2 separate regions of the Homo sapiens genome follow, and region 1 is linked to region 2. The links come from fine-mapping of genetic effects on gene expression. A gene starts in region 2. The other region holds a variant in brackets. All regions are shown on one strand. Distances are from middle to middle. Region 1 overlaps LINC02594 (long intergenic non-protein coding RNA 2594). Region 2 holds the start of SOST (sclerostin).

Evidence for each region. PIP is the estimated chance that this variant, and not a neighbour inherited with it, causes the effect.
Region 1: its variant is the best candidate, but not a certain one, in a credible set for the expression of SOST in aorta (GTEx, PIP 0.70).

The regions. Positions count from the first base shown.
Region 1 is chr17:43,696,672-43,702,040 of GRCh38, reverse strand. The region is part of intron 3 of LINC02594 (long intergenic non-protein coding RNA 2594); the gene reads right to left. Among named protein-coding and RNA genes, the nearest start is that of LINC02594, 34 kb to the right of the region's middle. RefSeq lists enhancers at 1-170, 288-447. The variant A/G (reference allele first, on the strand shown) is at 2,723.
Region 2 is chr17:43,756,739-43,762,107 of GRCh38, reverse strand. SOST (sclerostin) reads left to right here and starts at 3,317. Exons shown (of 2, transcript NM_025237.3): 1 at 3,317-3,586. The coding sequence starts at 3,367. RefSeq lists a silencer at 1,373-1,667.

The DNA.
Region 1 (5,369 bases), 60 kb after region 2:
CTTGCAGTGAGCCAAGATCACGCCCCACTGGACTCCAGCCTGGGCGACAGAGCGAGACTCCGTCTCAAAAAAAAAAAAAAAAAAGAATGAGACCCCATCTCTAAAAAAAAATAAAAAATAAAATAAACATGCATAGTATCTATTAATGTAAGTTACTCGGCAATATGGACAATGAGTAAGAGGGTAAAATCTGGTTCTGTCACTTACCAGACTTTGAAGGAGTTACTTAATTTCTCTTTGCCTCAGTTTCCTCATCTGCAAAATGAGGACAGTAACAATAACTGCTCCTAGGTTTGTTGTGCAGATTAAACAAATGTATACACCGTAAGGCACTTCAAGAAGGGGTAGTCAGAGTGTTTGCTTCAGTTCCCAGGAGCTGGGAGACCTCACATCCTGGCGGAGCCTCTAGTTCTGGCTGCACAGACCTGACTAGCCTGGCCTGGCCGCAGTAGCTGGCCCTGAGTAGTGACCCGCTCGCCCGCTGCCCTCGGAAGCCTCACTTGGCTGACAAACAGGAAGGTGGCAGGGCTGCCTGCGTGCCCTTGCCGCCCCCACAGCCCTGTGTCTGGCCCCAACCCTCATCTCTACTCGCGGCTGCGGTGAACTTGGATGGTGCTACTCTCACCACAAACCACAGTCCGTCACAAATTGCCGTGTGGTGAGTAGCGAGCACATTTATAATTGATGAAATCAGGGGGTGAGAGCTCATCGCTGAGATGCTCAGTAAACAAAGACCTGGTCCTTGGGTGGGGGAGGGGGTGCTTGAGAGTAAACAAGGGGACAGGAATGTTGGGGGGCTTAACTCTCCTGGAGAGTACATGAAAGGTCTCACCCACCAGCTTTTGTTTTTATTATTAAGCTTATTTTAAAGAGTTTCAATCCTATAGAAAAGTTGCACGAATATATAGACTCACATAGATTCCTTTTTTTTTAGAGACCGGGCCTCAGTCTGTCTCCCTGGCTGGAGTGCAGTGCTGCAATCATAGCTCACTGCAGCCTCAAACTCCTGAGGTCCTCTGATCATCCCACTTCAGCCTCCCAAGAAGCTGGAAGTACAGGCGTATACCACCGTGCCCACGTAATTTTTACTTTTTTTTTTTTTTGTAGAGATGGGGTCTCACTATGTTGCCCAGGCTGGTCTCAAACTCCTGGCCTCAAGTGATCCTCCTATCTCAGCTTCCCAAAATGTTGGGATTTACAGGTGTGAGTCACTGCACCTGGCCTAATAATTATATTCTTCAGTCTTTTCTTACTAGTCTGTTCTTAGTCTCATTCTGTTTAACCATTTGTGAGTAAGCTGCAGAGATCATGAACTTCCCTGCTAAATACCTCAAGGACATTTTCTTACATACCTATAAGAATGACTAACGGCCGGGAGCGGTGACTCATGCCTGTAATCCCAGCACTTTGGGAGGCTGAGGCGGGCAGATCACGAGGTCAAGAGATCGAGACCATCCTGGCCAACATGTTGAAACCCTGTCTCTACTAAAAGTACAAAAACAAGCTGGGTGTGGTGGCACCCGCCTGTAGTCCCAGCTACTCAGGAGGCCGAAGCAGGGGAATCGCTTGAACCCGGGTGGCAGAGGTTGCAGTGAGCCGAGATCACACTATTGCACTCCAGCCTGGTGACAGAGCAAACTCCGTCAAAAAAAAAAAAAAAAAAGAATGACTAATATCAGAAAATGTAATAACACAATACTAATATAAAATCCATGTTCAAATCTCACCAATTATCCAATACAATCCTTTTTAGCAACTCTTTTTTCCCAATCAAACCTGATTAGCCTTTCAATAGTCAAGGTCCCAGGTAATTGTCACCCTTGGTCCCCCACCCCACTGGGGGCTAGAATCCCACAGTCAGGTAGGAGTGATGAAGCTGTGGTCAGATCAGAAAACAAGGCCAAGCTTAGGATAACAGCTGGAGCCAGATGTAGAATCTGGCTAAGTAAGCTCTGGGAGCCCTGGAAGCTGTTTCCAGAAGGTCCCCAGGGATGGGAGCCCAGGTGAGCAGGGAGAGAGGCATGGAAGCTCTTACTGGGATCCCAAGGGAGACAGGAGGCTCTCACACTTCTGTCACAGCAGCCAAACCCTGGGCATGGACAGGTGGGGACAGGAGAGATGTTAGGAAGATAGGGAGGAGATCATCAACATTTCAGGCACAGAAGCTGGCAGAAGAGAGACACCTTTGTCATCTGTATTATGCTAATTGGTTAGTCTGTATATTTATTTAACAAATGTCTATTGCACCCTTACTGTATGCCAAAAACTATTTTAAGTGCTGGGGATACAGACCCAGTTCCAACCTTAAGGTGTTTATGTTCTATTGGGAGATGGGATAGTTTGCACTGTTGTTGTGAAAACGGTCACCCCCCCATCCCCTCCCACTCCCCTTCACAACAGGTGTAAGAGAGTAAACTTGCCCAATCCACTGCTATTACACTTGGCCATGAGACTTCTTTGGCCACTAGAATGTTAGCGGTGTGTCATGATCACCCTTAACCGTGCTGTGAGGTTTGGCTTGGCTTTTAAGTTCCTGCCATTCTCCAAGACAAGCATGTGCCCCAGGGAGCTGCTGGTCCAAGGAGAATGGAGAGAGACATGGAGTCCACCCAAACCCAAGCCATAGCCTGGAGCTGCCCTGCTCGGGCTGACACACAGACTCACAAATGAGAAAGATCAGCACTTGTTTGGAGCCTCTGAGTATCGGGGTGGTTTGTTACAC[A/G]GCATCATTTCAGCAGTAGCTGACTAAGATGGGTGGAGACAGAATATAAACAAGCCAACTAAGACATGTGTGATGTCTTAGTGATAAGAACAGGAAGACAAAGAAAGCAGGAGAAGAGGAAAAGAGTGGTCAGGGCTGTTATAGATAGGGCAGCCAGGGGAAGCCCCCTGATAAGGGAGCAGAGATCTGAAGGAAGTGGGGGAAGGAGTTATCCAGGGCAGGAATTTCTCAAGGAGGAAACAGCAAGCGCGAGGCTCCCCAGGCAGGCACAAGCTGAGCCCAGGAGCAAGCCTGTATGGCTGGAGCAGAAGGAGCCAGCAGGGATAGGGTGGAGTGATAGGAGATGGTTCAGAGAGGAGGCTGGGGCCAGATCCAGTGGAAAGGACTTAGACATTTATTGGACTTGGACATCATCTCGTATAACTTGTTCCTAGCTGTCTGATGAAAGAGCGGACATGCAGAAAGGGCGCTGGCTGAGCTCCCTGGTTTGGGATGAGTACTGGCAGTGCCAATGTCAGCCACATTCAAGCCAGTGTTCCAGGGGCCTTCTCTCAGTCTCATGCTCCTGCTTTTCCTTGAGATTCTCCCCTCTCTTGTCCCCTCCCTATCTTGGCTCTCTACCCACCACCCCAACACCTCCAGCTCCCCCTCTGCTCCCCCTTTTGCTCCCCTGGACCTTCCTGGCTCTCGGCCTTCAACCCTCAGCCCTCAGCCCCTTTGGCTCTCAAGGTGGGGACCACTCCCACCTCTCCAGCCCTGTCTTGGAGCCCTGGGCATTCTGTCACTAGCTCTCTGCTTGGTCCTGTCCCTCAGGTGGCCTGTGGTCCTTTCACACTGGACATGCCTCAAACGGAGCCCATCGCGAGGGGAAGGGCTCTCAGGGACTATCTGAAACCTCGGGAGCTTCGTAGACCCCTCTACAAAGGGGAGCCAGTGGCCCAGCCAGTGGCTTTATTTTCCTAAGATACTGATTTCAACATGTCACTCCCCAGCCTTCTGTCTTGGATGGCAGCTCTTCTCTATGGGATGAAGGAACCCTCCTCGGCCCAGCACTGAAGGTCTTCTACCGTCTGGTCTCAGCTCACCTTTGCATCGGCTCCCACCGCCAGCCAAGCTGGATGCCCTCCCACCCCATGCCTCAAGCACACCCTGCTTCTAGGTCCTTACTCACAGGGCCCTTTGCTCAGTGGGAGTTTGCTGAGGGCCCACTGTGTGCGGGCGCTTTCCAGGGTGCTAGGCACAGAGGAGCAGCTGGCAGACTTACATTCGTAGAGCACACTCGGGTGCCTCTGCTGCGCCTCCCTGCACCTCCCCTTCCTTCCCTTCCCTCAAGGCTGGTCACCTATGGCCTCCACGACCAATGTCTCCCTGCTCCTTGGTCATTGGGAAGGTAAGCATACCTTGCCTTGTGTCTGATTGTTCTTTTAAATGAAGATTTCCATTTTTAACTATAGAAGTGACACATCCTCATTGTGAAAAATATGTAGAATGTGGAAAAGAAAGAAGCAAAAGAAGTTATATAACCTGGCTAAGAACATGGAGAAGCTTCTCTTAAAAAGAGGTGTCCTCAGCTGCTCGCCTTCCACACGCCTTCCTCACAGAGGAGGCAGCCTTGATTCCTGGGTGGGAAATGCCAAAAATGACGGAATCAAAGCCTTTTCTGGAAGCGGGCAGAGATTTCTAGGGGTGGGGAAGAGAGAATATAGAACTTAAGAGAACTGAGCTCTTGATGGAAAGTGGGGGTGGGGAACACAGAGGGGAGGCCCAGAGACTGAGAGGTCTAGGAGAACGGGTTAAAACCGAGGCCAGAGCCCCGGAAAAGGAGCCCAGAGGCCCCAGCTCTTTCCCTACTTACTTACTGTATCTGTGTGACCTTAAGCGAGTCCCTTGGTCTCTCTGAGATGCAGTATTTTCCCAAGTGAACGGGCATTGCCACACTTCACCTCCTCAGGGCGTTGTGGGGACCTTCAAAGCCGTAAAGCCCTTTGTAAATGGTAACGCCTAACACAAATAGGAGAGCACGCTGCCCTCTCTGGGTAGGCCCCTCATCTGGGTCCTGGTTCCAGTCTGGTACTGAGCCTCTGGAGGACAAGGGTCACATTTATTCCAATTTCTCTTCTGCATGCCCCAGTGCCCACTGAGCACAGTGGGAATACAAACACATTTATTATGCACTCTGCATATGACTAGAAGGAACTTTGGAGCTCAGATCCACCCTTTACACAGATGGGGAAAATCAAGGCTCACACCACAAGGTGAGCTTGGTGGTATCTTTACAACTCCAGGTAGTGACAAAACCAGGATGCAGATTCTGAGGAATGAACGAGTGAGAGAATGAAGGGAAATGGGGCAACAGTCAGCATGAGCAAGGGCTGACCTATGGTGGGTCTTAGCCTTTACTGTGCTCAGTGGCCCCACAGCACCATCGTCTCTCCAAGGAGCACGGAAGCAGCCCCCCGTGTGGGGTATGGGCACAGACCCCAGGGCCCAGGCAGGCAGGGGATGTGCCAGTGGTCCTTGCCACGGGCCACCAGCTTTGCCACCCTGCTCCAGGGCCCTGGCCTCTCCCCAGGGTGCAGGACGCCACTCCCAGGCACTCTGGCTCCGTTTCTTACCAGGCTGCTCTGGGATGGCAGCATCCCAGCAT
Region 2 (5,369 bases):
CGTGCCACCATGCCCAGCTAATTTTTGTATTTTTAGTAGAGACAGGGTTTCGCCATGTTGGCCAGGCTGGTCTCGAACTCCTGACCTCAAGTGATCTGCCTGCCTTGGCTTCCCAAAGTGCTGGGATTACATGAGTGAGCCACCGCACCTGGCCGCATTTATGTAACAATTTTGAAGTGAAAAAAAAAAATGACAGAAATGGAGATTAGATGAGTAGTTGCCAGGGGTTAGTTGTGGGAGGGAGGGAAAAGGAGGGAAGGAGGTGGGCAACAGGAGAAAGACTTGTGGTCACAGAGCTGTGCTTTATCTTGACTGTGGTGGATCCCCAAATTTACCCGTGACAAGATTGCATAGAACTAAGTATACACACACGTGAATGCGTGTGCACGCACACAGTAGAGGTTAAACCACGGGAGATGTGGGTAAGATTGGTAAATTGTGTCAATATCAATATCCTAGTTGTGATATTGTCCTATAGTTTCGCAAGGTGTTATTGTTGTGGGAAACTGGATAAAGGATACACGGAGTCTGCATTTTCTTTTTTTTATTTTTATTTTTTGAGACGGGGTCTCACTCTGTCATCCAGGCTGGAGTGCAGTGGCCCAAGTATGGCTCACTGCAGCCTCGACCTCAACCTCAAGTGAACCTCCCACCTCAGCCTCCCAAGTAGCTAAGACCACAGGCGTGCGACCCCATGCCCAGCTAATTTTTAAATTTTTTGTAGAGACTAGGCCTCACCATGTTGCCCAGGCTTTTATTTCTTATAAGTATATTTAAATTTATAATTATATCCACATTTTAAAATTTTAATTTAAAAAATTACTCTGAGGCCGGGCATTGTGGCTCATGCCTCTAATCCCCAGCACCTTGGGAGGCCGAGTTGGGCAGATCACCCGAGGTCAGAAGTTCGAGACCAGCCTGAGTAACATGGAGAAACCCCCGTCTCTACTAAAAATACAAAATTGGCCGGGCGTGGTGGTGCATTCCTGTAATCCCAGCTACTCGGGAGGCTGAGGCAGGAGAATTGCTTGAACCCAGGAGGTGGAGGTTGCAGTGAGCCAAGATTGTGCCACTGCACTGCAGCCTGGGCCACAGAGAGAATCTGCCAAAAAAAGAAAAAAAAAAAAATTTCAGCCGTACAAGGATGTTCATAGCAACCCTGCTGGAAATAGGAAAAAAAATTGGAAATAACCTAAACTACTCACAATAGGAATCAGCTAAAACCCTGGGGGTTTAATTCCAGGGAGTACTGTGAACAATGACAAGTTTGTGGACTGAGTAAAAATAAACAGCTGTCAATGACTTAACATTAAATGAAACAGCAGAAGATGTCACAGCAGGTTCTCGCTGAGCCATTCAGAGGGGTGTGGATCATTTAGAGGTTCAAGTCCACTGGATTCTTCTTTTTCCTTTTAATATTACTTCACTTCCAAATAAGGAAAGGAAAGGAAAGGAAATCACGTCCAGTCCTGAGACTTGCCATCCTGCAGTCACCCCTCCTTTTGTCTCCAGCAGGTGGCAGACGCGTTCCAGGGATGAATCCCACTGCCTCTGTTTAATGCAGACGGTCCAGCCGCTCCCAACAGCAGGTGGGGCTATAAGCATCCATCCTACCTGCTCAAGGAACCCAGGCATCAGAACTGCTCTCTCCCAAGTCCATTGCAAGAAGGCAGTCGTCTGGTCATGAGAGGGTTAACAGTCCACATTCCAGAGCAAGGGAAAAGGAGGCTGGAGGGTCATAGACAAGGGGAGGTGGCGCGGAGGGCCAGCTTCTCACAACACTACCGGCTCTGCTGGGAGAGATAGATCACCCCCAACAATGGCCACAGCTGTTTTCATCTGCCCTGAAGGAAACTGACTTAGGAAGCAGGTATCAGAGAGGGCCCTTCCTGAGGGGGCTTCTGTCTGGCTTGTAAAACTGTCAGAGCAGCTGCATTCATGTGTCGGATGATGGATGATGGAAAGGAGGACAGTCGGCTGCAGATGGACACAGCGACTTGCAAGTTGAGGCAGGTGGCAAAGGACTTGCAGAGGCTCTGCAGGTGGGGCATGCTGATTCATTGCCCAGTTAAAATACCAGAGGATCTGGGCAGCCTCTTCACAGGAGCTGCTTGTCCTCAAACAATCTGTCTTCAATGAAAGATTCCTCTGGCCTTCCTTTCTCTTCTTGCACCTCAGGTGTGAATCCTTCTCCCCCACGCCTCTACCTGCCCCCCCGCCCCCCGCCCCGGCCCTGTGTGGCTCATTATATGCAGGGCCAAGGCAGCATTTTCTCTTAGCTTCTTTGTGACCACTTGGTCCTGGGATGGCTTCATGGAACACATCCTGTGGTGTGCACCAATGAAGCTTTCCATACAGGACTCAAAACTGTTTTTGAAAAATGTAACCAGCTGGAAGACAAGAAAATAAAATGTCAGCACTAAAAACGCTGGCTGTGGCTTTTGCTAAGGAAAGGAATTTGGTGTTGTCTTCTCACACACACAGACTGGTTGGGGAAATGACTGTCTTCAGCACATCACCCTGCGAGCCACAGTGAGTGCCCTGGCTCAGAAGTGCCTGTCACAGTGCACAGGATCCCTGAGGAGCATGAGCTGGGATTTCCTCTGTGCTGTCCACCACAGGAGCCTGAGTGACCAGCGCATCCTCGATTTGTAACCAGAATCCTGCCCTCTCTCCCAAGCGGGCACCCTTGCTCTGACCCTCTAGTTCTCTCTCTTGCCTTCCAGAGAATACCAAGAGAGGCTTTCTTGGTTAGGACAATGAATGCTGAGACTTGTGGAGTTGGGACCAATGGGATTTCTTTAAAAGCATCTTTTTGCCTCTGGCTGGGTCTATGGGGGTCAAACAGAAACGCCTTGGGCCATTTGTTGGTGGGGTGACAAATGAACTTGGCCTGAGAAATGGAATAGGCCGGGCTCAGCCCCGCGAAGCACTCAGAACTGCACATTTTCTTTGTTGAGCGGGTCCACAGTTTGTTTTGAGAATGCCCGAGGGCCCAGGGAGACAGACAATTAAAAGCCGGAGCTCATTTTGATATCTGAAAACCACAGCCGCCAGCACGTGGGAGGTGCCGGAGAGCAGGCTTGGGCCTTGCCTCACACGCCCCCTCTCTCTGGGTCACCTGGGAGTGCCAGCAGCAATTTGGAAGTTTGCTGAGCTAGAGGAGAAGTCTTTGGGGAGGGTTTGCTCTGAGCACACCCCTTTCCCTCCCTCCGGGGCTGAGGGAAACATGGGACCAGCCCTGCCCCAGCCTGTCCTCATTGGCTGGCATGAAGCAGAGAGGGGCTTTAAAAAGGCGACCGTGTCTCGGCTGGAGACCAGAGCCTGTGCTACTGGAAGGTGGCGTGCCCTCCTCTGGCTGGTACCATGCAGCTCCCACTGGCCCTGTGTCTCGTCTGCCTGCTGGTACACACAGCCTTCCGTGTAGTGGAGGGCCAGGGGTGGCAGGCGTTCAAGAATGATGCCACGGAAATCATCCCCGAGCTCGGAGAGTACCCCGAGCCTCCACCGGAGCTGGAGAACAACAAGACCATGAACCGGGCGGAGAACGGAGGGCGGCCTCCCCACCACCCCTTTGAGACCAAAGGTATGGGGTGGAGGAGAGAATTCTTAGTAAAAGATCCTGGGGAGGTTTTAGAAACTTCTCTTTGGGAGGCTTGGAAGACTGGGGTAGACCCAGTGAAGATTGCTGGCCTCTGCCAGCACTGGTCGAGGAACAGTCTTGCCTGGAGGTGGGGGAAGAATGGCTCGCTGGTGCAGCCTTCAAATTCAGGTGCAGAGGCATGAGGCAACAGACGCTGGTGAGAGCCCAGGGCAGGGAGGACGCTGGGGTGGTGAGGGTATGGCATCAGGGCATCAGAACAGGCTCAGGGGCTCAGAAAAGAAAAGGTTTCAAAGAATCTCCTCCTGGGAATATAGGAGCCACGTCCAGCTGCTGGTACCACTGGGAAGGGAACAAGGTAAGGGAGCCTCCCATCCACAGAACAGCACCTGTGGGGCACCGGACACTCTATGCTGGTGGTGGCTGTCCCCACCACACAGACCCACATCATGGAATCCCCAGGAGGTGAACCCCCAGCTCGAAGGGGAAGAAACAGGTTCCAGGCACTCAGTAACTTGGTAGTGAGAAGAGCTGAGGTGTGAACCTGGTTTGATCCAACTGCAAGATAGCCCTGGTGTGTGGGGGGGTGTGGGGGACAGATCTCCACAAAGCAGTGGGGAGGAAGGCCAGAGAGGCACCCCTGCAGTGTGCATTGCCCACGGCCTGCCCAGGGAGCTGGCACTTGAAGGAATGGGAGTTTTCGGCACAGTTTTAGCCCCTGACATGGGTGCAGCTGAGTCCAGGCCCTGGAGGGGAGAGCAGCATCCTCTGTGCAGGAGTAGGGACATCTGTCCTCAGCAGCCACCCCAGTCCCAACCTTGCCTCATTCCAGGGGAGGGAGAAGGAAGAGGAACCCTGGGTTCCTGGTCAGGCCTGCACAGAGAAGCCCAGGTGACAGTGTGCATCTGGCTCTATAATTGGCAGGAATCCTGAGGCCATGGGGGCGTCTGAAATGACACTTCAGACTAAGAGCTTCCCTGTCCTCTGGCCATTATCCAGGTGGCAGAGAAGTCCACTGCCCAGGCTCCTGGACCCCAGCCCTCCCCGCCTCACAACCTGTTGGGACTATGGGGTGCTAAAAAGGGCAACTGCATGGGAGGCCAGCCAGGACCCTCCGTCTTCAAAATGGAGGACAAGGGCGCCTCCCCCCACAGCTCCCCTTCTAGGCAAGGTCAGCTGGGCTCCAGCGACTGCCTGAAGGGCTGTAAGGAACCCAAACACAAAATGTCCACCTTGCTGGACTCCCACGAGAGGCCACAGCCCCTGAGGAAGCCACATGCTCAAAACAAAGTCATGATCTGCAGAGGAAGTGCCTGGCCTAGGGGCGCTATTCTCGAAAAGCCGCAAAATGCCCCCTTCCCTGGGCAAATGCCCCCCTGACCACACACACATTCCAGCCCTGCAGAGGTGAGGATGCAAACCAGCCCACAGACCAGAAAGCAGCCCCAGACGATGGCAGTGGCCACATCTCCCCTGCTGTGCTTGCTCTTCAGAGTGGGGGTGGGGGGTGGCCTTCTCTGTCCCCTCTCTGGTTTGGTCTTAAGACTATTTTTCATTCTTTCTTGTCACATTGGAACTATCCCCATGAAACCTTTGGGGGTGGACTGGTACTCACACGACGACCAGCTATTTAAAAAGCTCCCACCCATCTAAGTCCACCATAGGAGACATGGTCAAGGTGTGTGCAGGGGATCAGGCCAGGCCTCGGAGCCCAATCTCTGCCTGCCCAGGGAGTATCACCATGAGGCGCCCATTCAGATAACACAGA